4 linked regions of the Homo sapiens genome follow. The protein of the gene in region 1 interacts with the protein of each later gene in a biochemical or structural test. Each region holds a gene or a part of one and is shown on either strand. Other genes may lie near its edges. The genes, in order: TGFBR1, RANBP9, ENG and CD44.

The links.
Region 2: the proteins of TGFBR1 (region 1) and RANBP9 form a complex in vitro, tested with the Homo sapiens proteins (one study listed by BioGRID).
Region 3: of the proteins of TGFBR1 (region 1) and ENG, one has a biochemical effect on the other in vitro, tested with the Homo sapiens proteins (one study listed by BioGRID).
Region 4: the proteins of TGFBR1 (region 1) and CD44 form a complex in vitro, tested with the Homo sapiens proteins (one study listed by BioGRID).

What each region holds. Positions count from the first base shown.
Region 1 is NC_000009.12:99,150,101-99,154,726, forward strand, and holds the end of TGFBR1 (TGF-beta receptor type-1 isoform 1 precursor), read left to right. Parts: 3' UTR 1-4,092; downstream 4,093-4,626. UniProt on the Homo sapiens protein: Transmembrane serine/threonine kinase forming with the TGF-beta type II serine/threonine kinase receptor, TGFBR2, the non-promiscuous receptor for the TGF-beta cytokines TGFB1, TGFB2 and TGFB3.
Region 2 is NC_000006.12:13,638,791-13,645,836, forward strand, and holds part of RANBP9 (ran-binding protein 9), read right to left. Parts: intron 5,940-7,046; coding exon 5,755-5,939; intron 3,802-5,754; coding exon 3,689-3,801; intron 2,518-3,688; coding exon 2,409-2,517; intron 964-2,408; coding exon 773-963; intron 1-772. UniProt on the Homo sapiens protein: May act as scaffolding protein, and as adapter protein to couple membrane receptors to intracellular signaling pathways. Acts as a mediator of cell spreading and actin cytoskeleton rearrangement.
Region 3 is NC_000009.12:127,816,659-127,823,658, reverse strand, and holds part of ENG (endoglin isoform 1 precursor), read left to right. Parts: intron 1-1,138; exon of another isoform or gene 1,139-1,321; intron 1,322-2,160; exon of another isoform or gene 2,161-2,464; intron 2,465-3,621; coding exon 3,622-3,759; intron 3,760-3,998; coding exon 3,999-4,037; intron 4,038-4,826; coding exon 4,827-4,943; intron 4,944-4,947; exon of another isoform or gene 4,948-5,059; intron 5,060-5,269; exon of another isoform or gene 5,270-5,281; coding exon 5,282-5,539; intron 5,540-5,801; exon of another isoform or gene 5,802-5,900; intron 5,901-6,315; exon of another isoform or gene 6,316-6,455; coding exon 6,456-6,510; exon of another isoform or gene 6,511-7,000. UniProt on the Homo sapiens protein: Vascular endothelium glycoprotein that plays an important role in the regulation of angiogenesis. Required for normal structure and integrity of adult vasculature. Regulates the migration of vascular endothelial cells.
Region 4 is NC_000011.10:35,142,151-35,149,196, reverse strand, and holds part of CD44 (CD44 antigen isoform 1 precursor), read right to left. Parts: intron 1-7,046. UniProt on the Homo sapiens protein: Cell-surface receptor that plays a role in cell-cell interactions, cell adhesion and migration, helping them to sense and respond to changes in the tissue microenvironment.

The sequences.
Region 1 (4,626 bases):
CATTTGGTATTCTATTCTGAAAATGCCTTTCTCCTACCAAAATGTGCTTAAGCCACTAAAGAAATGAAGTGGCATTAATTAGTAAATTATTAGCATGGTCATGTTTGAATATTCTCACATCAAGCTTTTGCATTTTAATTGTGTTGTCTAAGTATACTTTTAAAAAATCAAGTGGCACTCTAGATGCTTATAGTACTTTAATATTTGTAGCATACAGACTAATTTTTCTAAAAGGGAAAGTCTGTCTAGCTGCTTGTGAAAAGTTATGTGGTATTCTGTAAGCCATTTTTTTCTTTATCTGTTCAAAGACTTATTTTTTAAGACATGAATTACATTTAAAATTAGAATATGGTTAATATTAAATAATAGGCCTTTTTCTAGGAAGGCGAAGGTAGTTAATAATTTGAATAGATAACAGATGTGCAAGAAAGTCACATTTGTTATGTATGTAGGAGTAAACGTTCGGTGGATCCTCTGTCTTTGTAACTGAGGTTAGAGCTAGTGTGGTTTTGAGGTCTCACTACACTTTGAGGAAGGCAGCTTTTAATTCAGTGTTTCCTTATGTGTGCGTACATTGCAACTGCTTACATGTAATTTATGTAATGCATTCAGTGCACCCTTGTTACTTGGGAGAGGTGGTAGCTAAAGAACATTCTGAGTATAGGTTTTTCTCCATTTACAGATGTCTTTGGTCAAATATTGAAAGCAAACTTGTCATGGTCTTCTTACATTAAGTTGAAACTAGCTTATAATAACTGGTTTTTACTTCCAATGCTATGAAGTCTCTGCAGGGCTTTTACAGTTTTCGAAGTCCTTTTATCACTGTGATCTTATTCTGAGGGGAGAAAAAACTATCATAGCTCTGAGGCAAGACTTCGACTTTATAGTGCTATCAGTTCCCCGATACAGGGTCAGAGTAACCCATACAGTATTTTGGTCAGGAAGAGAAAGTGGCCATTTACACTGAATGAGTTGCATTCTGATAATGTCTTATCTCTTATACGTAGAATAAATTTGAAAGACTATTTGATCTTAAAACCAAAGTAATTTTAGAATGAGTGACATATTACATAGGAATTTAGTGTCAATTTCATGTGTTTAAAAACATCATGGGAAAAATGCTTAGAGGTTACTATTTTGACTACAAAGTTGAGTTTTTTTCTGTAGTTACCATAATTTCATTGAAGCAAATGAATGAGTTTGAGAGGTTTGTTTTTATAGTTGTGTTGTATTACTTGTTTAATAATAATCTCTAATTCTGTGATCAGGTACTTTTTTTGTGGGGGTTTTTTTTTTGTTTTTTTTTTTTTGTTGTTGTTTTTGGGCCATTTCTAAGCCTACCAGATCTGCTTTATGAAATCCAGGGGACCAATGCATTTTATCACTAAAACTATTTTTATATAATTTTAAGAATATACCAAAAGTTGTCTGATTTAAAGTTGTAATACATGATTTCTCACTTTCATGTAAGGTTATCCACTTTTGCTGAAGATATTTTTTATTGAATCAAAGATTGAGTTACAATTATACTTTTCTTACCTAAGTGGATAAAATGTACTTTTGATGAATCAGGGAATTTTTTTAAAGTTGGAGTTTAGTTCTAAATTGACTTTACGTATTACTGCAGTTAATTCCTTTTTTGGCTAGGGATGGTTTGATAAACCACAATTGGCTGATATTGAAAATGAAAGAAACTTAAAAGGTGGGATGGATCATGATTACTGTCGATAACTGCAGATAAATTTGATTAGAGTAATAATTTTGTCATTTAAAAACACAGTTGTTTATACTGCCCATCCTAGGATGCTCACCTTCCAAGATTCAACGTGGCTAAAACATCTTCTGGTAAATTGTGCGTCCATATTCATTTTGTCAGTAGCCAGGAGAAATGGGGATGGGGGAAATACGACTTAGTGAGGCATAGACATCCCTGGTCCATCCTTTCTGTCTCCAGCTGTTTCTTGGAACCTGCTCTCCTGCTTGCTGGTCCCTGACGCAGAGACCGTTGCCTCCCCCACAGCCGTTTGACTGAAGGCTGCTCTGGAGACCTAGAGTAAAACGGCTGATGGAAGTTGTGGGACCCACTTCCATTTCCTTCAGTCATTAGAGGTGGAAGGGAGGGGTCTCCAAGTTTGGAGATTGAGCAGATGAGGCTTGGGATGCCCCTGCTTTGACTTCAGCCATGGATGAGGAGTGGGATGGCAGCAAGGTGGCTCCTGTGGCAGTGGAGTTGTGCCAGAAACAGTGGCCAGTTGTATCGCCTATAAGACAGGGTAAGGTCTGAAGAGCTGAGCCTGTAATTCTGCTGTAATAATGATAGTGCTCAAGAAGTGCCTTGAGTTGGTGTACAGTGCCATGGCCATCAAGAATCCCAGATTTCAGGTTTTATTACAAAATGTAAGTGGTCACTTGGCGATTTTGTAGTACATGCATGAGTTACCTTTTTTCTCTATGTCTGAGAACTGTCAGATTAAAACAAGATGGCAAAGAGATCGTTAGAGTGCACAACAAAATCACTATCCCATTAGACACATCATCAAAAGCTTATTTTTATTCTTGCACTGGAAGAATCGTAAGTCAACTGTTTCTTGACCATGGCAGTGTTCTGGCTCCAAATGGTAGTGATTCCAAATAATGGTTCTGTTAACACTTTGGCAGAAAATGCCAGCTCAGATATTTTGAGATACTAAGGATTATCTTTGGACATGTACTGCAGCTTCTTGTCTCTGTTTTGGATTACTGGAATACCCATGGGCCCTCTCAAGAGTGCTGGACTTCTAGGACATTAAGATGATTGTCAGTACATTAAACTTTTCAATCCCATTATGCAATCTTGTTTGTAAATGTAAACTTCTAAAAATATGGTTAATAACATTCAACCTGTTTATTACAACTTAAAAGGAACTTCAGTGAATTTGTTTTTATTTTTTAACAAGATTTGTGAACTGAATATCATGAACCATGTTTTGATACCCCTTTTTCACGTTGTGCCAACGGAATAGGGTGTTTGATATTTCTTCATATGTTAAGGAGATGCTTCAAAATGTCAATTGCTTTAAACTTAAATTACCTCTCAAGAGACCAAGGTACATTTACCTCATTGTGTATATAATGTTTAATATTTGTCAGAGCATTCTCCAGGTTTGCAGTTTTATTTCTATAAAGTATGGGTATTATGTTGCTCAGTTACTCAAATGGTACTGTATTGTTTATATTTGTACCCCAAATAACATCGTCTGTACTTTCTGTTTTCTGTATTGTATTTGTGCAGGATTCTTTAGGCTTTATCAGTGTAATCTCTGCCTTTTAAGATATGTACAGAAAATGTCCATATAAATTTCCATTGAAGTCGAATGATACTGAGAAGCCTGTAAAGAGGAGAAAAAAACATAAGCTGTGTTTCCCCATAAGTTTTTTTAAATTGTATATTGTATTTGTAGTAATATTCCAAAAGAATGTAAATAGGAAATAGAAGAGTGATGCTTATGTTAAGTCCTAACACTACAGTAGAAGAATGGAAGCAGTGCAAATAAATTACATTTTTCCCAAGTGCCAGTGGCATATTTTAAAATAAAGTGTATACGTTGGAATGAGTCATGCCATATGTAGTTGCTGTAGATGGCAACTAGAACCTTTGAGTTACAAGAGTCTTTAGAAGTTTTCTAACCCTGCCTAGTGCAAGTTACAATATTATAGCGTGTTCGGGGAGTGCCCTCCTGTCTGCAGGTGTGTCTCTGTGCCTGGGGGCTTTTCTCCACATGCTTAGGGGTGTGGGTCTTCCATTGGGGCATGATGGACCTGTCTACAGGTGATCTCTGTTGCCTTTGGGTCAGCACATTTGTTAGTCTCCTGGGGGTGAAAACTTGGCTTACAAGAGAACTGGAAAAATGATGAGATGTGGTCCCCAAACCCTTGATTGACTCTGGGGAGGGGCTTTGTGAATAGGATTGCTCTCACATTAAAGATAGTTACTTCAATTTGAAGGCTGGATTTAGGGATTTTTTTTTTTCCTTATAACAAAGACATCACCAGGATATGAAGCTTTTGTTGAAAGTTGGAAAAAAAGTGAAATTAAAGACATTCCCAGACAAATACTAAGACAATTTGTTGCCTATGGACGTCTGCCTTACAAGAAATACTAAATCCTTCACACAGAAAATAAATGACACCAGATGGTAACCTGAATCCACAGGATGAAATGAAGAGCACCAGAAATGGTGGATATATGTACAACTAGCAAAGACTGTATGATTGTATAGCTGCCATAAATTACTACAAATGCCCTGGCTTAAAGCAACACCTATTTATGATCTCAGAATTCCATAATTCAGAAGTCTAGGCATAGCTCAGATGGTTCTCTGCTCCATATTTTAAAAGGTCAAAATGAAGGCATTGGCTGGGCAACATTCTTTTCTGGAGGCTCGGATGAATAGGCTTCCAAGCTCATTGAGGTTGTTGGCAGAATTCAGCTCCATATGGTTGTAAGACAGGTTGGCCAGGGGTGGTTGTCAGTTTCTAGAAGCCACTCAAATTCTTTGGCTCGTGGTTCCCTCCTCCATCATCAAAACCAGCAGCAATGGGTTGAATCATCCTTGCACTTTTCTCGGATCTCCCCTTCTGCCTCAT
Region 2 (7,046 bases), on another chromosome or scaffold:
ACGGATGGGAGAAAACGAACTAGGCAGAGCTGACTTTTGCAAGAGGCTTGGTTGGGAAAGGTTGGGGGTGGGGGGAGAGGAGGGAGGCAGCGGCAGCCCAGCTAGATGTGGTAACCAGTGGCATAAGGTATCACAGCCACATCACCTTTAAATTTATATTTTATTAAAACACACAATTACCTTTTCACTATTAAAAATCAATAATTTAATTCTGGTGACTACTCATTGTGAATGCTGACTTTCATTTAGGAAGGTCTGCTAATAACCTATTCTCAGACAGCTGTTCTTCAAGTGACTTCCTGGTACTGAGAACATGTCAATCTGAACCTACAATTTTTCACCCAGAAAAATCTTAAGTATACACATTTGAAAACAGCTACAAAGGAAATATACAGATTTTCTGAGACAAATGGAGTGTCCCTCTGTCACCCAGGCTGGAGTGCAGTGACGTGATCTCAGCTCACTGCAACCTCTGCCTCCAGGATTCAAGCAATTCTCCTGCCTCAGCCTCCCGAGTAGCTGGGACTACAGGCACCTGCCACCATGCCCAGCTGATTTTTGTATTTTTAGTAGAGATGGGGTTATCACCATGTTGGCCAGGCTGGTCTCGAACTCCTGACCTCGTGATCCGCCCACCCTGGCCTCCCAAAGTGCTGGGATTACAAGCGTGAGCCACCGTGCCCAGCTGGAAATATACAGATTTTCAAAAGGAAAAAGGTTTAAGATTATAAAGAGGAAAAATCTAAAAATAATGTCATAAGTTAAATCTCACCTGAAAAATGTGCGGTGCTTCCTTTGCCTGATGCTAAATTGTGGATATTCATTCCATGGCTGGGGCTCATACTTGGACTACTAAAAGGTCGAGGACTAACAGGATAACTGTCTTGAGACTTTGGACTTCGGCCTCCCAAACATCGTACTTCACTATCTGTACCATTCACCATTTCTATAAACTGACGCACTCTAAAGGAGAAAAGAAAAATTTACTTAGACACAATCTTCAAATGGCCTTTTATTTAATAGCAACAGATTTCTAAAAATATTTTTAAAACTTTGATTTATCAGTAGGATTGGTCTTTAGTAAGCTAAAAATATTAAATATGGTGTCCTATGCTTTAATGCTTAGAATTTTAGAATTTCCAGAAAAATGAGAGTACAATGTAATAGACACTATAATAATATTACCCCCTTTAATCAGGATTTACCAAATGGAAATTTACCTATAAGAAGATATGAACCCCATTTTTTTGGCTACAAGTAATTTAATCAAAATAACATTTGCGCTTGGTAGCAAATCAAATTGTGCCTAAGGACATGATTTTATGTATATGAGATACATATAAAGCGTAGCCTTTCTCCCCACCCGTCCCATTCCCAACCTCTTAACCAAAATGGGCCTCATTTAAAATTCTTATTCTAAAGCAAAACAATTCTGTCATTTGACTTACAAAGGATATCTGTTGCTTAACAAGTTGAAATCTGAAGCTCAGTAACATCTCATTTTTTAAGTAACAAAGATTCATAAAACCAATTAAAATTGTCAAATCAGGATGGCTATTATTAAAAAAAAATAGTTAAACATAGAATTACCATATGATCCAGAAAGTTCACTTCTGGGTATATAACCAAAAAAATCTAATGCAGGGACTCAGATATTTGTACACCTATGTTCACAGCAGAATTATTCATAACAGCCAAGAGGTAGAAGCAAACTTTAAGTGTCCATCAGTGGATGAATGGATAAACAAAATGCAGTATTATCCAAACAATGGAGTAAAATTCAGCCTTTAAAAGGAAGAAAATTCTGATACATACTACAATAAAGATGAACCTTAAGGCTATTACACTAAAATAAGCCAGTAATGAAGAATAAATACTCTGATTCTACTTATATGGGTAGTCAAATTCATAGAGGCAAAATGTAGAATGGTGGTTTCCAGGGGCTAGGGGGATGAATGGATGGTTAGTGTTTAATAGAGAGTTTCAGTTTGGGAAGATGGAGAAGTTCTGGAGTCGGATGGTGGTGATGGTTGCACAATGATGTGAATGTAAAAAATGGTAAATTTTATGTATATTTTACCACAATTTTTTAAAATGCCAGAGAGATTAAATGTAAGGTACTTCTGAGAAGGAAAAATAGACACCCATCTTCTAAATAAGATTTTCACATTTTTAAACACATAAATAGAATAATAAAAGCAAATACATAGCAAAAGACACCTTCTGCTTATGGTCCTTAACACAAAAGTATTTTTCATAACATGTTGCTTAAATGACATTACAAAATTGTATATACTTGAAAAACGAAAAAAACTAAAATTACAAAAGCACGAAAATGTCTTTTATTACATAACTTGACAAATATTTATAATATATAACAAATATAGCATTTTATTATGCAAACTCACTTTAATGTGAAAAGGAGATTAGGATTTCTTTCAAGTAAACTTGGGTATAACTGTTGTGTTGTTTCAATGGCTTCTCCCATTCTTCCTGCTAATACCAATTTCTGAATTCCTATTCAGTAAAAGAAAGCAAACGATTAACTTTTACAAAAGTAGATAAAACATAAACTTAGTGACCTCAGAAAAGAAAGTTAGTAAGAAATCTTTAAATAAATTATGATTAATTTCAATTTCTTTCTCTAACATCATAGTTTCCATTAGGCAATCCAGGAAACATTTCAGACATACTAGAAAATTAGAAAAACAAGTACGGTCACAAATTTTTTTTTTAAAATCACGAACATACGAGTAATATAGTTAAAATACCTATTATGCAATATTGAAGTTTCAAACACTGAGATTAAAAAGACTGTTTTAAAGGGATACTAAAATGCCTTATCAAACATAATCTTCTGAACAAAGGACTGAAAAATGCTAGCTTTTGACTAAGATTCCAATTTAACAGAGACTCGTTGAGCATTCACTTGATCTGTTATATGTTAAATTAGATGATAAGGATACAAAATGAGTAAGTGATCTCTGTTCAACAGAGCTTATTAAAATAGTAGAAAAGGACAGCACACAATTAACTACAACCCAATGTAATCAGTGCTATTACAGCAATTTGACCTATGAAATAGTTGTTTTCACCCATTAATTTCACCCATCTATTTTGTTTTCATCTCTATACTCTTGTCAAGTCATACCCACCCTGATGGACAAACAGCACCAATTTTAGGATGGCTAACTATGGACCAGTTATGCTGACTTGCCATTGTTATACAGGACCTGTTTTATCTCTGGCCACAGAGGCCAGCACTAGGATCTAAATAATAAATACTTATGGATCAATACTGTATTAGCCATTTAAATTCAAAGATATTTACATTTCTTTCACATACTATCTCCTCCAACTAATCAGGACTACTTTATTATTATTTTTAAATCTTTTTATTAAATGTTTATTTCCTGAAAGCTTAAGAAAACATTTAAGAAAAAAATGGTAAAGACATTCCTTCAAAAAACTTCTGTAAAATCTCTCTAGAATTAGAATTCTGACATAGTCCTATGTGAATTTTTAAACTGATCTTCAAAAATGTCAGTGAAAATAAAATTCAGAGGCATCCATTTTAAATTAATATATTTGAAATTTTTTTAATTAAAAAAACAAAATTTCTAAAAATTAAAGTAACCAAATCTATAATCTGAAAACAAATGTTAGCCATGCACCACAGTGTCCTTACTTTGTCTATTCTTAATGGAAGCTAATTCTTCTAGAACGGTCTGGTCTGTAGATCTGGCAAAGGCCTCTGCTGTGGCACAGTACCCATGGTGGACTAAATAAGATGAAACCATTCTTAAAATAAAAAGAAGAAACATACATCTTTTAGTGAAGAGAATACATGCTTCATACTACAATTTATATAAACAAAATCTATTCTGGTGTTATAAAAACGAACCTATTTCCTTGAAACAAGGCGTTAAGAACCTCACCTTTAAAGTAAGCTTTTGAAAAACATCATTTTGTTCTATTCATGTACTATTTTCGAAAAGATAACTGCAAATGCTATGTTGAGACTACTCTCCCTAAAATAAATATTACTTGAGAATCAAGGACATTAAATGACCTTTTCTTTGATTCTTGGACTCTCATTACCCCCAGGTCCCTTCCTATCTTATTATTCAGCCCTACTAACCATAATTTCTATTTTGACTTTATCATATGACTTATTCCAGTATTGCTGGCATTCTGTAAAATAACCAACTTTAAAATAAAAGATTAACTCTTAATGTTCCAGAGTTCAACCATCTTCTTTACACACCGGTTAAATGAAGTGGGATCACAAAGTATGTACAGAATACTAAGGTGAATCCAGAGAGACAATCTTCCAGAACATGTCTATAAGTGTACTACTAATTAAAGGAGGAATCAGCCTTCTAATCTAAATCAATTACTATGGTTTTACCCAAGAGATTTATCAAATATGGTTTACATGTAAGTGACACATTTCCAAGACAATAATCTTTTAAAAACGTACCAGGTAGTCAAAACATATACTTACATCTACCCACAAGATGTGGTTAGAAAAACTGGTGATGCAACAATATTAACCCAAATATCTGTTATCTCCAAACAGTCAATTTTTAAACTTGCCTCCACCTGACACTACTAAGGGCCAGTTAGAAAATCGTGGGAAGCAGTGGTTCACCACAGGAGGAGACTGAGGCAAAGAGCGGAGGGAGAAAAGGGAGGAAAATGTCTAAGAAACAGATCTGCATCTTATTTTACCCAATTGTTCAAATTAATTTAAGGGGGAGGGGACCTTTTAGAATGGACTTCTCAAGAGTTCATGGTGAACATCAAGTCAGTGAAGAAGTGGGTGGAAGGATCCTGGTTATAAGGTTAAGATAAATGTTTTCTACTATCTTGCCATGATACTCAGTGGTAACCATTTTCAGAGCATTAAAACAGTGTGGCCCCAGAACAACCCATTCTAGCTTCACTTCGTGGTGACTATAGGATTCTGCATCAGGGTTGTCTATTCTCAACTGGGCTGGACAAAAAAACTAGTGTCCAATCTCTGTAATACAGATGATAATAGCTCCAGGGACGAAGTGTGATTTCAGAGTCATCATCATGTCTCCCAATCACTTCCTTTTCTAAAAAATACCCCCAACATTTTATTACAATTTTAAAGTTAAGAATATTCAAAGCAATTATAAGGACATTAAAGATGAAATGTGTTGGACCAACTGTATCTGAAAGTCTGCTATTTTCTTGACCTGGATTATAATAGTGAAGAGGACTTTTTAAATTTAATGGTATTTATTTAAATTTTAAGTCCATACTTAACTACTGCTGATAGTTCAGATATTAAGAGCTTGGACATAGCCAAGTTCATGACCAAAAACCACAGATCCTGATTATAAGATCTAGATTATCTCTCAACTTTATCTTTTCCATTAACATTATTAAAAGTTAAATTGTATAACCTACAGAAATCATTAAATCCTATTACTAAGAATAGCAAATGAATTAACCTAGCCTAGGTGACCTAACATCATTTTATTTCCTTCATCAAATTAATTCAGACTGAAATACAATTCTGTACGTGTGTCAAACAATTGTTTTTAATTTGTTTAAATAGTGGAGTAAATTACTTTTCGTTGAGAGATTAAAATCAATAATATAATAGATATGTCAGTATATAAATTAGTGGATTAAAAAGCTTCTGTGGATACCAACAGAATAAATGTCTTATAAAAAACAGATTCTGAATAGCATCAATTGAAATTTCTTCACTCTTACTTTTGTATCATGGTCTGCCATTCTCCTTCTCGATCTCCGATAGGAAATCGATCTATCTGTGCCTGGATTTTGGTTCTCCACTCCCGCATATAGTCTTCTATATCAAACACGAAAGGATGTTGCCCAAAATTGGCATCGACCACTTCTCCTGGTGTTTGAAGCCCCACAGTAGGATACAAATTTGGCTGTAAGATAGCATATTTCATTAAACATCTATCCATTTTATGTTAGATTTAATAATTCTTTTAATGTTACATTTAAAAGAATAGAACTATAAATTTACTTCATATTTTAAAATCCCAATCAAAATATTAGAAGGCTAAAACAAATGATCTAAAATACATTATATGTTAGATGAAAAAATATCACTTCCTGCAATGTAATCATCAAGAAAAAACAAAGAGACCCAAGATCTCTGTTTTATTTATTCAGGGACTACGTTGTATTATACCACGTGGTATTATGCTACTAATATATGTGCATGTAATTCTTGTTCTAAGATTATGTCATATAGTAGTTACAGAAATTCAACTATAAACACATAACTCAGGTTTATCCCACATTTTATATATGATACATTTCTATAAACTGCATGTTAAAGCTAGTTATCATAAAAGTATGATCTCAGCTAGTCTGGCATTTAATAGCTTAAATTTACTGTTTTCATTCTGTATATTTGGGATGCCTAACTTTACAAAGGGAAGGGGATAAGACCATAACTATAAGCAAAACACAGTGCCAGGAAGAGTGGAGATTCTCTATATTAAAAAAAAAACACAAAACCTCAAATATATGTATTTCAAGGGAGGAAAAGGATGAATCTGAATATACCCAAACTCAGAAATGCATTCAGGTACACTCCATGGTTTCAAGGTTAATCAAGATGAAAAGGTGATAACTTCAAGTAAACAAAAAATACAGGGGTCATTCTTTTGGCTATGTCACTAATTGGTTGTTACATCTAAAGGCAGAATGAGTTTCTGAGTGGCTACTAAATGCCAGGGTTTAATCATAATTCTGTGAGGCCACTATTATTATTTCTACTTCAAAGACAGAGAAAATGAGGATTCAAGGTTAAATAACTTGCTCATGGTCGTTCTGCTAACAAATGGCAGAGATGGAATTGGAACACAAGTTTGTCTGATACCACATCCAAAACTGATTTTTCCTCTTGCAACTCCAAATCCTACCATATTTTCATTTTCTGTATTTATGTCTTATATCTTTAATAGTTATAACAAGTATTTTTCAGTACAAAACAAGGTAAAGATCAAGAGCGGATAATTTCTGTG
Region 3 (7,000 bases), about 29 Mb from region 1:
CCCAGCACTTTGGGAGGCCGAGGCGGGTGGATCACAAGGTCAGGAGATCGAGACCATCCTGGCTAACACAGTGAAACCCTGTCCCTACTAAAAATACAAAAAATTAACCGGGTGTGGTGGCAGGCGCCTGTAGTCCCAGCTAATCGGGAGGCTGAGGCAGGAGAATGGTGTGAACCCGGGAGGCAGAGCTTGCAGTGAGCTGAGATCGCACCACTGTACTCCAGCTTGGGTGACAGAGAGAGACTCCATCTCAAAGAAAAAAAAAAAAGCCTATACAATATGATCACTGCCTGGTTGACAAACAAATATATTTGTTATAAAAATAACACATGGTGAATACAAAATATTAGCCAGGCATGGTGGTAGGCGCCTGTAGTCCCAGCTACTTGGGAGGCTGAGGCAGGAGAATGGCCTGAACCCGGGAGGCGGAGCTTGCAGTGAGCCAAGATCATGCCACTGCACTCCAGCCTGGGCAACAGAGCAAGACTCGTCTCAAAATAAAATGAAAGAACACATGCTGGCCAGGCACAGTGGCTCACACCTGTAACCCTAGCACTTTGGAGGCCGAGGCAGGCAGATTGCCGGAGCTCAAGAGTTTGAGACCAGCCTGGGCAACACGGTGAAACCCTGTCTCTACTAAAATAGAAAAAATTAGCCGGACGTGGTGGTGCACGCCTGTAGTCCCAGCTACTCAGGAGGCTGAGGCAGGAGAATCGCTTGAACCCGGTAGAGGGAGATTGCAGTGAGCTGAGATTGTGCCACTGCACTCCAGCCTGGGCGACAGAGCGAGACTCCATTTCAAACAAACAAACAAAAAACATGCTTTAAAAAATATGTGAAAATTAGAAAATCTTAACCTTCTGACACAAAGACAATGGCTGCCAACATTTTGGTGTGCTTCTTTCTAGAGCGTTTTCTCTGTGTATTTCTTATATTGATGTAATCATAAGAGATGTGTTCATTTGTCTCTTACTATTTCACTTAATGTATTTTTAGAGCTTTGACAGCTGTACCTAATATCATGTTTAATAAGCACATATTATTCCATCATATTGACATGCTATAATTAACTCCTCTTCCCTTGTTACACATTTAGGTTGTTCCCAATTCTGTAGTATTATAAATATGCAAAAAATGTCATTGTGCATGAAACATTTCTTTATATAGGATTATTTTCTCAGGATAGATTTCCACATTAGTGGAATTACTGGGTCAAAATGAATGAAGTTTCAATACATGTTGCCAACCCACTTTCCCAAAGATGATTTGAATTTTCACCACTGATTTACGAGAACACCTCAACCTCTTCGCTGTCTCCAGACTATAATTCAAAAAAAGAGAAACCTTTGCCAGTGTGGGAAGAGGCACATGGCGTTCCATTCTTGTTTTAGTTGTAATTCTCTGGTTAGTAGTGAGTGTGGGCATGGTTCCACGTGAGTGATGAGAACCTCAGTCTCCTTATCATTGAGGCTTGGTATTTTTCTTGATGATTTTTATAAGTTTTAATAAAGAAAAAAAGGTTGCCCCTTTGGCCACCACTTCCCTTGATTTGCTGTAATTCTTTCAATTTTGGCTACAGTGGTTTTTCTTTTCTTTTCTTTTTTTTTCTTTGAGACAGTCTTGCTCTGTCACCCAGGCTGGAGTTCAGTGGTACAATCTCGGCTCACTGCAACCTCCACCTCCCGGGTTCAAGTGATTCTCCTGCCTCAGCCTCCTGAGTAGTTGGGAATACAGGCGTGCACCACCACGCCTGGCTTTTTTTTTTTTTTTTTTTTTTTAAGACAGTCTCACACTATTGCCCGGGCTGGAGTACAATGGCACAATCTCGGCTCACTGAAACCTCTGCCTCCCGGGTTCAAGCAATTCTCCTGCCTCAGCCTCCCGAGTAGCTGGGATTACAGGTGCCCACCACCACTCTTGGCTTATTTTTTGTATTTTTTTTTTTAGCAGAGACGGGGTTTCACTATGTTGGTCAGGCTGGTCTCGAACTCCTGACCTTGTGATCCGCCCACCTCGGCCTCCCAAAGTGCTGGGATTACAGGTGTGAAATCAGGCGCCTGGTCCGCAGCCTAGCTACTTTTTTGTATTTTTAGTAGAGACAGGGTTTCACCATATTGGCCAGGCTGGTCTCGAACTTCCGACCTCAGGTCATCTGCCTACCTCAGCCTCCCAAAGTGCGGGGATTACAGGCGTGAGCCACTGCAACTGGCCTTCTTTTTCTTGTTTTAGAGACGAGGTCTCGCTCTGTCACCAAGGCTGGAGTGCAATGATGTGATCTCGGCTCACTGCAGCCTCCTCCTCTCAGGTTCAAGCGATTCTTGTGCCTCAGCCTTCCCAGTAGCTGGGACTATGGGTGTCTGCCACCACACCTGGCTAATTTTTATAATTTTAGTAGAGTCGGGTTTCACTATGTTGGCTAGGCAGGTCTCGAACTTCTGGCCTCCTGTGATCTGCCTGCCTCTGCCTACCAAAGTGCTGGGATTACAGGCGTGAGCCACCACGCCCAGCCTGTGCTAGACTTTTATATGACCGGCAGTGCAATAAGTTTGCTTACACCAGCATCACCACAAACACTAGGCAATAGAAATTTTTCAGCTTCGTTATAATTTTATGGGACCAGGGACCACCATCATATACACAGTCCATCACCGACCACAACATTGTCCCATGGTGCATGACAGTATTTACTATCTGGCTCTTTATAGGAACACTTCGCCCACGCCAGGCCTGAGACTGGATTATGCTTGCAGGGTTTGCATGCCCTTGGGGCTGTGAGTGATGATTATATGTGGAACTTGAAGGAATATATATATATATATTTTTTTTTTTTGAGACGGAGTCTCGCTCTGTTGCCCAGGCTGGAGTGCAATGGTGCGATCTCGGCTCACTGCAAACTCCGCCTCCCGGGCTCACGCCATTTTCCTGCCTCAGCCTCCCGAGTAGCTGGGACTACGGGAGCCCGCCACCACGCCCGGCTAATTTTTTTGTATTTTTAGTAGAGACGGGGTTTCATCATGTTAGCCAGGATGGTCTCGATCTCCTGACCTCATGATCCACCTGCCTCAGCCTCCCAAAGTGCTGGGATTACAGGCGTGAGCCACCGTACCCGGCCTGAAGGAATATTTTTAATAGTTCTGTATTTATTTTGATAGATATAAGAAAATTTGGCCAGGCGCGGTGGCTCACGCCTGTAATCCCTGCAATGGGAGGCCGAGGCAGGTGGATCACCTGAGGTCAGGAGTTTGAGACCAGCCTGGCCAACATGGTGAAACCCTATCTCTACTAAAAATACAAAAAAGTAGCCGGGCATGGTGGCACGTGCCTGTAATCCCAGCAACTCAGGAGGCCAAGGCAGGAGAATCGCTTGAACCCAGGAGGTGGAGGTTGTAGTGAGCCAAGATCGAGCCACTGCACCTGGGCAAAAAGAGTGAGACTCCATCTCAAAAAAAAGAACTTTTAAGTGGTGTAGGATGATGACATCTAACAAAAATGAAGAGGGAGCAGGGCAGGGGAATGGCTGTGACTTGGGACCCCTGGGTTGTGGTCAGTCCTTGGTGCTGGGGTGTGGCAGGCCACAGAGACCCCAGTGCCTCCTGATGGTGCCCCTCTCTTCCGACCCAGCATTTGAAGTGCACCATCACGGGCCTGACCTTCTGGGACCCCAGCTGTGAGGCAGAGGACAGGGGTGACAAGTTTGTCTTGCGCAGTGCTTACTCCAGCTGTGGCATGCAGGTGTCAGCAAGTATGATCAGCAATGAGGTAAGAGCTGGGGCCAAAAAGGTATCAGGACCAGCCTGGTTGGTGCCCCCTCAGGTGCCCTCCCTGATCCCCCAGGGTGGAGGTGTGTTTGGGAGAGCAGGCTGCAGGGGCTCAGAACACAAGACAAGCTTGGCCATTGGTTGGCTTAGTCTCCCCATCTGCAAAAATGGGCGTATTGGGTGGGATACCCTCTGGGGTCCTTTCTGGCTCTGACCAGCTCCCTGGCTTTATCCCCGCAGGCGGTGGTCAATATCCTGTCGAGCTCATCACCACAGCGGGTGAGATGGACAGTCACGTGCTAACCCACCTGGCCCAGGGGCTGCTGCTGGGCCGGGGCCTCTTCCTGGCCTGGGAGGGAGCAGGCCTCGGGAAACTCCTGGCAAGCCATGTGTGTCTGGAATGCCTCGGTCTCCCCTTCTGTATGACCGGAGCAGGACTGCTGAGGGTGACGCTCTTGGTCTCTCAAGTCAGAGGGCTTAGCACATACTGGCTGTGTGGCCTTGGGCAAGTCACTTTAGTTTTCTGGGCCCAAAGGTGGCCTAAGAAAGGACTCTGCGCCACAGGGTGCTTCTGGGCAGCCAATGAGGTGCTGTGTGGAAGCTCTTCACACAGCCTGGCAGCTGGTGCCTCCTTGATAAATATTAGTTTAAAAAAAAAAAAAAGGGCCGGGCGCAGTGGCTCACGCCTGTAATCGCAGCACTTTGGGAGGCCGAGGCGGGCAGATCACGAGGTGAAGAGATTGAGACCATCCTGGCTAACATGGTGAAACCCCGTATCTACTAAAAATACAAAAAATTAGCCGGGCGTGGTGGCGGGCACCTGTAATCCCAGCTACTTGGGAGGCTGAGGTAGGAGAATGGCATGAACCCGGGAGGCGGAGCTTGCAGTGAGCTGAGATCGCACCACTGCACTCCAGCCTGGGCGACAGAGCGAGACTCCGTCTCAAAAAAAAAAAAAAAGAGAGTCAGGCAACTCCACAGGGCCATGATGCCTGTTCCTCCCCACACCCCTCGCCCTCCTGGCTGGCGCCGCCAGATTGACCAAGTCTCCCTCCCGTCCTCCCCCAGAAAAAGGTGCACTGCCTCAACATGGACAGCCTCTCTTTCCAGCTGGGCCTCTACCTCAGCCCACACTTCCTCCAGGCCTCCAACACCATCGAGCCGGGGCAGCAGAGCTTTGTGCAGGTACCTGGCATGCCTGTCACCCCTCGGGCCTCCCAGCTCCTGGAACTTCCTCTCCGCCTTTCTTCCCACCATGACTCCAGAGGAGATGAGACTCCCAGAGTCAGGAGGGAGACAGCCTGGGTGCACGGGAGAGGGAGAGACAGAGAAGGCATTGCTCAGGGACACTGACAAGGATGTGGCCCTGTCCTCCTCCTCTGCCCCAGACAGGTCCATGTCTTTCTTTCCACTGTGAGGACTCAGGGGTGGGAACTCTTAATTCTAGCCGATATTTGAAGGCAGCAGGTGGGGTGGGGTGAAGAGCAGCTGCCCATGCCGCGTGGCCCTACCTACCCATGCAGGTCAGAGTGTCCCCATCCGTCTCCGAGTTCCTGCTCCAGTTAGACAGCTGCCACCTGGACTTGGGGCCTGAGGGAGGCACCGTGGAACTCATCCAGGGCCGGGCGGCCAAGGGCAACTGTGTGAGCCTGCTGTCCCCAAGCCCCGAGGGTGACCCGCGCTTCAGCTTCCTCCTCCACTTCTACACAGTACCCATACCCAAAACCGGCACCCTCAGCTGCACGGTAGCCCTGCGTCCCAAGACCGGGTCTCAAGACCAGGTGAGTGGGGCCTGGGCCGGCCCCAGCTTCAAGTGGGAGCTTCCAGGTCTGTGGTTTGCAGGAAGGGACATGGCAGCCCACAGGGATGTGGGGCCAGCTGGTGAGGGGCGGAGCCTTAATCAGGCATGTGGCCTGGCAGTCTGGCTGCCAGCAGCACTTTCTGCCACCCGAGAGCTTTCTGGTGGGACTGCTGTGTCTGGGGCACTGGCAGACTATGCAGCTGCCACTGTCCATCTATCCATCCATCCATCCTTTCACTTACCCGTCCGTCCATCCATCCATCCACCCTCCCACCCAGGAATCTAACCACCCGCACATCCATGTAGTATGGTCACCAGTGTAATCTCAAAGAACAGGAGACCTGAGGGAAGAGAGGCGGACAAAGGACACACACTCCTGGCTTTCTGTATTTGCCAGTCACAACACTTCACCATCTGGTGACCCCCACTCTCAGGCAATCTATCCTGGACGCCCCCAGAGTCACCCCCAGGCCCTTGCACAGACAGGCCTCCAGGATTACAAACTTCTCTGGTCATAGGAAGCTAGGGAAGCCTTCAACTCCCCTAAGTGGGCCTCTCCCTCCAGCCAGAGTGAGCCTGGGACTCTGGGCTGACCTGGCTCATAGCTCCAAAGTGTTCACAAGGGTGAGGGATGCATAGTGCTTCCACAGTGCTCCTGGGCATCAAGGCCTCCAGGAACTCACAGGAAACATTTCAGCAGCAGCCAGGGATCGTCCACTAGGCACCCTCCCACAGCACAGATCTTCCAGGACTCACCCAGAGGCATCCAGCTACGAAGCGGTGGAGATGGGATTCAAAGCCAAGGCTCTAGGGTGGGCTGGGGTCACGGAGCCAGGGAGTAAACCTGGAAGCCGCCTCCCAAAGGTGCCACATACTGCTCTCTCTTTCTCCTCCAGGAAGTCCATAGGACTGTCTTCATGCGCTTGAACATCATCAGCCCTGACCTGTCTGGTGAGCTCCCTCCAGGTCTCTCGGGTTTGTTCTAGTGGCTGAGGTCACAGTAGGGCACAGCGGGCAGCCCTGAGAAACGGCCTGGGCACATAGCACATGGCAAGGGGGACCCCAGAGAAAGCGGCCCAGAAGGGGCAGGAGGAGGGCTTCCCAGAGCCATAGCAGCCTAGAGCAGGGGCCAGAGCTGCACTTTGCAGATGGAGAGCCCTTGCCCGGGACCGCCCTGTGGGGTGGGAGTCTAGGCCTCTGCCCCCACTCACGGCTCCACTCCATCCCCACAGTTATTGGCTGACCTTGCTGGGAGGATGGAGTCTCCTGGGTGAGACAGAGGCCCTTTGAGGGTGGGTGCTGGCCTTGCCTTCCTTGAGGCCTCTCCCTGCAGGACGCCCCCTCTAGCCTCTCCATCAGTTCCCCCCAGGCCCAGGCCCACACCAGGCAGAAGAGTCCCGACACTGGTGGCAGAGGCAGGGGTGAGGGATGGGGGCACCTA
Region 4 (7,046 bases), on another chromosome or scaffold:
ACAATTTTTCTCTGAGTATTGTTGAGAACATGATTTTAAGGTTTGGGGTCTTTTTATACATGAGGCCAGATTTGGAAGTAAAGGTGTAGACAAAGAGGCAGCCAGACCTATAGGAAATCCAGATCCCCGTTCTACTGGACAAAATACAATTAGCTCTAAACTTCCCCTGCCTTGTGTAACATTTCAAACCTCAAGAAAGATCTCTTTAGACTGAAGAGAGTGCAGAGAACAGAAATTTCAAGGGAGGAGGCGGGTTGAGGATCGCTACAAGTAGCAATAGAGAAAAATGAAAGAAGATTTGTATAGACCAGAAAGAAAAAAAATGAAGAAAAAGAATTAGACAGAACCTATAAAAATCACAAAAGATAAGTAACGGAGATGGCTTTGCTAGCCAAGTCTAGAAACATTATTAATTCAGTAAGCCATCCAAGTGTTTATTGAGCACCCACTATAATTGGGGAACTGTGCTGACCGCTCAGGGCTATCATGAATATGAAAATGTATAGAGGGTTTGGGCTTTTCCCTAAGGAGCTTTTATGCTCACTGGCAAAAGAAAAGAGATAACCATTACATGGCATCCTTTAAACTTTCTCTTTTTAAATGGAGATGTGTTTGTGAGGTTTTTATGAATTTTCAGGGGGAACAATAGGAGAAAGCAAGTCACTTAAGGGAGTCTACAGGAATGTACCTGACCTCTAATGATATTGTAAAGACAACTAGTCTCACTGCAGAGGATCCACTGCAAAAACAAACTCCTTGACAGGAGATTTCTTCCCCGAACTTTTATCCCCTCTTGTGGGTTACCTGAATTCCCCTCCCCCTCTTGCAGGCAGATGTGGGCCCAGTAACTCACTGGTGGCTGCGGAGCTGACGTCAGCTGGTTTCCTGCAAGATGGTGCTTAGTTAGCTCTGTTAGATTCTGGTTTTTTGACTGGATACTCAGCAGAGGCAACATCTGTGATTGGCATGTAGTAGCTACTCATTTAAAGTGTGCAAAGACTAGAGCTGGGGGCTTGGGCAGAAATGCCCTTCTAAGCCAAACGCAGGAGACCAGGTGTTGGCTGCATGGAATTGTTCATTTCTCCCTGGCACCTTTTTTTTTTTTGAGACCGAGTTTCGCTCTTGTTGCCCAGGCTGGAGTGCAATGGCGTGATCTTGGCTCACTGCAACCTCTGCCTCCCGGGTTCAAGTGATTCTCCTGCCTCAGCCTCCCAAGTAGCTGAGATTACAGGCATGCACCACCATGCCCGGCTAATTTTTTTGTATTTTTAGTAGAGACGGGGTTTCTCCATGTTGGTCAGGCTGGTCTCGAACTCCCGACCTCAGGTCATCCGCCTGCCTCGGCCTCCCAAAGTGCTGGGATTACAGGTGTGAGCCACCTTTCCCAGCCCTCTCCCTGGCATCTTAATGTGCATAATAGTGAACACTTGCAAAGGGGCTTTACTGTTATCGTGCTACTATCTTGGAAAGGAAGTGGAAAAAGATGCTGCCTAGTTCCACGATTGGTGTGTGGATCCTCCTAGAAGTCACTGCAGACCTGTTAAGTGTAAAGAGATGCACTAAAATTGAAAAAAAAAAAAGTTGGGGGAAGGGGGCTGGAATATGGGATGAGTCCTCATTCCCAGGAAAAGGCCTGCATCCCTTCCTGTGGACTGAGCCAGATGTTCCCAGGGGGCCTTGCCTCCTCCCTTCCTGGGTGGCTTTTTTCTCAGTGAGGGGTACCCAGAGGAAACTCTCTTGCTCCCTGATGGGATGGTCACATGCTGGGCCAAATAGAAGCCTGGTCATCTGGTTTAGGCTAGGGCTGGAGAGAAGGGCTATAGTATACTTCCAGCTTTTGCCAAATTCCTTGTGCCCTGGATATGTACAGCCCTACTCCTGACAGCCTCTTTTCTCAGAGTTTCTCTCCCTCCCTCATCCATTCTAGCCGGTGGAGAGAAGACCCTGGAACCAAGGGCCTGTAAGGTGAGGGCAAATATTTTGCTGCTATTTGATTGGCTCATTTCCCAGTCAAAGTTCTAGCTGATGGAGAAACACTAATCAGCCACCTTTACCTTTCATCCAGGTGACAAATAATGAAGTGATAATGAACAAACAACTCAATTCACATCCCTTTCAGCCCTATCCTATCCTAATGAACAAACAACTCAATTCACATCCCTCTCAGCCCTACCCTATCCTCAACTTTCCATCACATGGAAGAGAGTAGAGCTTCTATTCAGAGATCAGAATGAATGAGTCAACTCAGAATATGCATTGGCAGAAGTTTCCATTACAACTTCCTCCTCCTTCATTTTTGCAATTCTAACCCCTTCCTCTGACATCATGTTTAAAAGCTCAGTGGATGTTATGACCTCACCCACAACTAGATTCCCAAATGAAGTTTTTGAAAACAACTACAGTACTTCCAGGTACAATCGTCTGGATTTCTAGGGTGCCTCGATATCTTAATATACCAAGAGAAGCACTCTAACATAGTGACAAAGAGCATGAACTCTGTAGCCAGATGTGAGTTTGAATCCCAGCGCCATCACTTATCAGCTGCATGGCCTTGGGCAAGCTACTTAAATTCTCTGTGCCTCAGTTTCCTCATATGTAAAAGACAGATAATAACAGCACCACCTTCATGAAGTCAGTGTTTGGATTAAACAAGGCAGTATATAGGAAACAATTAGAATGGCGCTGGTACATGGTCAACACTCTGTAAGTGTTTGCTATTATTACTAATAGTGGTGAGGGTTCTCAGAAACATAGAACTTGTGCAAAGATGCAAACAGAAAAAGCGTAAGAGCTCTCAAAAACAAATGAACTTTCAGGCACTGCGAAGGAGACTTGCAATGCCACAACAGCAGATGCTCAAAATGACTGGTCTATGTGAATAATCTCTTCCCTCAACCCCGGAGTTTTGCAATTAACCTTTACTTTTAAAAGCTGAAGACCTGAAAGTTTCTGGGACCTGAGTTTTGCAAATCACCTCCTTGGTGACTCAGTCCCTCCCCACCCACCTGAGATCTGTCTGCCCACACTTGCACTTCGCAGGGACACTTACCTCAGGAGGACACACCCAGGCAGCCAGTGCAACTCAAACTCGGGGAGATCTGGCTCTGTGAGTTTCCATCGTTCCCCACCCCCACAAGACCCACCCCCTCATTCTGTGTTTGTCTCCCTGTCTCTCAGGTCTAGCTGGGCAGACAATCTTTGGGAAGACAAAACCTGCCCCAGTTATGGGTAATTTCTGACATCACAAGCTCTGTGGAGAGGAGACACCGTTTGCCATTGCCAAAGTGGCTCCCCGTCGGATGTCAGGATTCCCTACGGATTTGCCCCCGAAGAAGCTATGGTAGTATCTGGTCAGATGACAGCTTGATAATTGCCCAAAGAGACCGACAGAGAAGGCAAGAATCTCCCGCATCTCCCATATAGTACTTCTACTTCTCTCCTCTGCCACCACCTTCCAGAAGCAGACATGGGGGTTGGAGGAGTGTGGGCCTCTCACCCAAGGATCTCAACCTCGTATCAGTATCTCCAAAATAACTAGAACCCCAAGGTGGCTGCTGCTGGGGAGTGTTTTTGTTTTGAGGCTTAAATTTGGGGTTGGTGTCCTCATCTCACTGGCTCCCACTCCCTTCTCAGCCCAACTATCTAGTAACCCTGTCTTTAGCCAGATGTCCCCAGCGGTCACAGCAGGCAGCCACCAAAGCCGCAAACAAACAGATGGGTGAGCTCACTGTTTGGGGTAGACCAAACATGAGGCCTGTGGTGGGCAGTCAGCCAGCCAAGTCAGCCCTGTCCTGAGCAACACAGCCATCACCATGGTTCTCACTTACACATAAATGTATTTGCACCTTAGCCCATACTGACAGCATGCTTCCATATATATAGATATCATGACTTTTATATTCTAGACATTCATTGCAGTTCAACAGTTATGGGTCAATATTACTGGGATCTGGGCCCACAAAAATGAATGTGACATGATCCCTGTTATCAGGGGACTCCCCCAGTGCTGCAGAAGACAGGAGAAGATACATTGGAATTTGTTTTGTTGTGGTTATTTTCCCCTTTAAGGGGCATGAAAGTCTTTAGCATTCTTTGGCATCACCAATTCCCACCACACACATAGATCCTTCAGGCATGTACTTATAGGCATACCTGCAATGTGCATATGTCCACATCCAGCAAACAAGAATCAAACATGTGGCTTATCTTGGTACGTCACCCAGTGGGGCAATTGAGCAATGGAGAGGGGAGGAATATGAAATACTTACCTCCAAAGTACACATGTCCTGAATCAAACATTAATTTAATTGACACCATCCTAGTTAAGGAGTTGTAAAGATGTGAATTTCTTTATGCAAAAAGCATTTTTAAAAAGTGTTTGACTTTCAATTACATTAAGTCATGTATTTATTTGTGGAAAAATATATAAACATTTAGTCAAAATATGCACTAGACATCAATTGGTAGAGTGTTTGCATATTTGAGATCCTGACTCTCCCAGAAAATCTGGAACGCACAATGACTGTATCCATGCCTGGCCAGACTCCAGAACCACAAACTTTAGAAAGCACCCCTTCCGGTTTACTCTGGCAAGTTGGGCTTGCCTCGCAAACCCAGTTGGGCAGCTGTGGGGGGTACACTTAAAAAAAATTCAACCTGCTAAGTGAGTGAAAAGTGGGATTCAAATTTAAGGTAGAAGGTATCAACCTACCCTGCCATTCTAAAGAACGCCTACAACCTTCCCATTAAAGCAGGGACACAAAGGAAATTGAGTCATCGGTTTCTTGCTGTGCAAACCCCAGAATTTCTCTCTGAGGCAGAAAAAGATCCCCTTTGAAAACTACACGGTGCCTGGTAGCATCTGCCACCTGCTTCAGCTCATTCTTTCGCAAGAACCACTTCCCTTTCAGGCTCTTCGGTGGAGTGACCTAAAGCGAAGGTGCCGGGGAAGCACAATTGCAGTTACTCTCTTATCCCCAGCCCCAGCCCCAGCCAGGAGGCAGTGCTGAGGAGGCCCAGGTGATCTCCAACCACCTCCTCTCCATCAGGGGACCCCAGCCTTGAAGCATCTGACACTGCAGGTGGATCCGAAACCTCACTTGGGTGGCCACATGTCACCTAGAGCCACACACTGGGTTTCAGTTCAAGACCCATGTCAGCCTCCTACCCAGGGTCGCACAACCTACTAATGAGCATGTGAGGAGTGGGTCTCTGGGTCTGTGCATGTGAAATGCTTGCCTGGTCAGAGTGAGAGCTCCTGTAATGCTGCTTTCCTAATATTCAGGCAGAGGGCATTGCCCTAACTTGTCCTGTAGACAAGCAACCACCTCTCTCTTTATTCCAAGCCTGTAAATCAGAGCATATCTGGGAGGGCAGCTGGACTCTGATAAGGGATGTGATTTATTTTAGTTACAAATAACTTGGTTGGCATCTCTGATATCTGTGGCCAAACCTGGGGAGAGACAGGCCAGGGCAGGGCAGCCAAGAGTCCACAGCCTGCCGGGGATGGAGAGAGAAGCCACCCATGCAAGAGTTCACTTATGCTGGCCACAGGGGACAGGTAGTGTGGGAGAGCCACGTATAGCTTCCAAAGTCCTCCAGACACGTAATGAATTGAAGGAGCATAAGCATTGGAGTCTAACATGGGAGGATGTTAGATAATGCGGAAATCCCAACTCCACCACTGGATCCTGGGGCAAGTCATGCCATCTCCACAAGTCTCGATCTCTTTATCTAGAAAATGGAGTTAAAGAGAGTGCTAGGTGTATTGGGCTGTTGGGAGGCTTAGATAAGATATCCTGTGCTACCCCCGGCTTCACATCTAGTATAGAGTCAGTGCTCACTGAGCAGTATTTCCTAGAGACTCAGGACTTAGGACCCTGCTTTACACAGGACCATATGGTACCACAGCAGAGCATCAGGTTTTTAAAACTTTGGTGCTCCTGACCATCTAGCGATGTTCCAGGAGGTGCTAGAAGCCCCAGGACAATACAGAGAATCATTGTCGAACACCAACATTGCTATATGGTCAAAAATATATATCATTATTATTGTATTAAACTCAAATTGGGTATATTGTAGAGTAATATATAAAACTGTAATGAGTCTGTAAGGTAGTATTTAAGGTGTGAAACAAATGTTGTTACCCCAGTAGACCACACCCTCCCCACCCACTGCAGGGGGTGGGGTTGAGGCTCCCACAGTCCTCATGATAGAGATACATGAGAGAAATGCCCTGCCCTAATATCTTAACAAGTCGCAGAGAGGGGAAGTCACTAGTCCCTCTCTTTCAGATTTTCTAAATGATCCTTAGAGTTCCCATCTCTGAGTCTATGACAATGAGTCAGGAAATAGTTCCTGAATGAATGGAAGGGAATCTGTCATGAACTAAGAATTTCATGCTGTCCAGCATCCCCTCCTTTGTGGGGAAATTTGGGAAAAAACAAATGGAACATTTTCCTACTGGCTGCCAGCCTCCCACACAAGGACTTGTCACCATGCCTTTGCAGCAAGTAGATGTCCAATGTGTAAATGGGGAATACCTGAATTAGTTGATGCTAGCCCCAACAGAGATGAAGCTTTGCCTCTTTGCTCCTTCACATGGGAAAACACAGCTAAAGTTCTAACTCCCAGCAGGGGGCGGAGTCTCTAATGCTCAATTAGAGAGAAGGGAGCAGAAAGGTGTGTGCCAGCCCTAAGACCCAGGGCTCTCAGACGCTCTCCTCTTTCTCAACACCAGGCATGCAATTCCCAAGCAAAGATCCCCTCACCCAGTCTATCATTGTTGGACATTTGGGTTGGTTCCAAGTCTTTGCTATTGTGAATAATGCCACAATAAACATACATGTGCATGTGTCTTTATAGCAGCATGATTTGTAGTCCTTTGGGTATATACCCAGTAATGGGATGGCTGGGTCAAATGGTATTTCTAGTTCTAGATCCCTGAGGAATCGCCACACTGACTTCCACAATGGTTGAACCCTAAAACTTAAAGTATAATAATAATTAAAAAAAAAGATCCCCTCACCCACAGAGACAAGGAGATG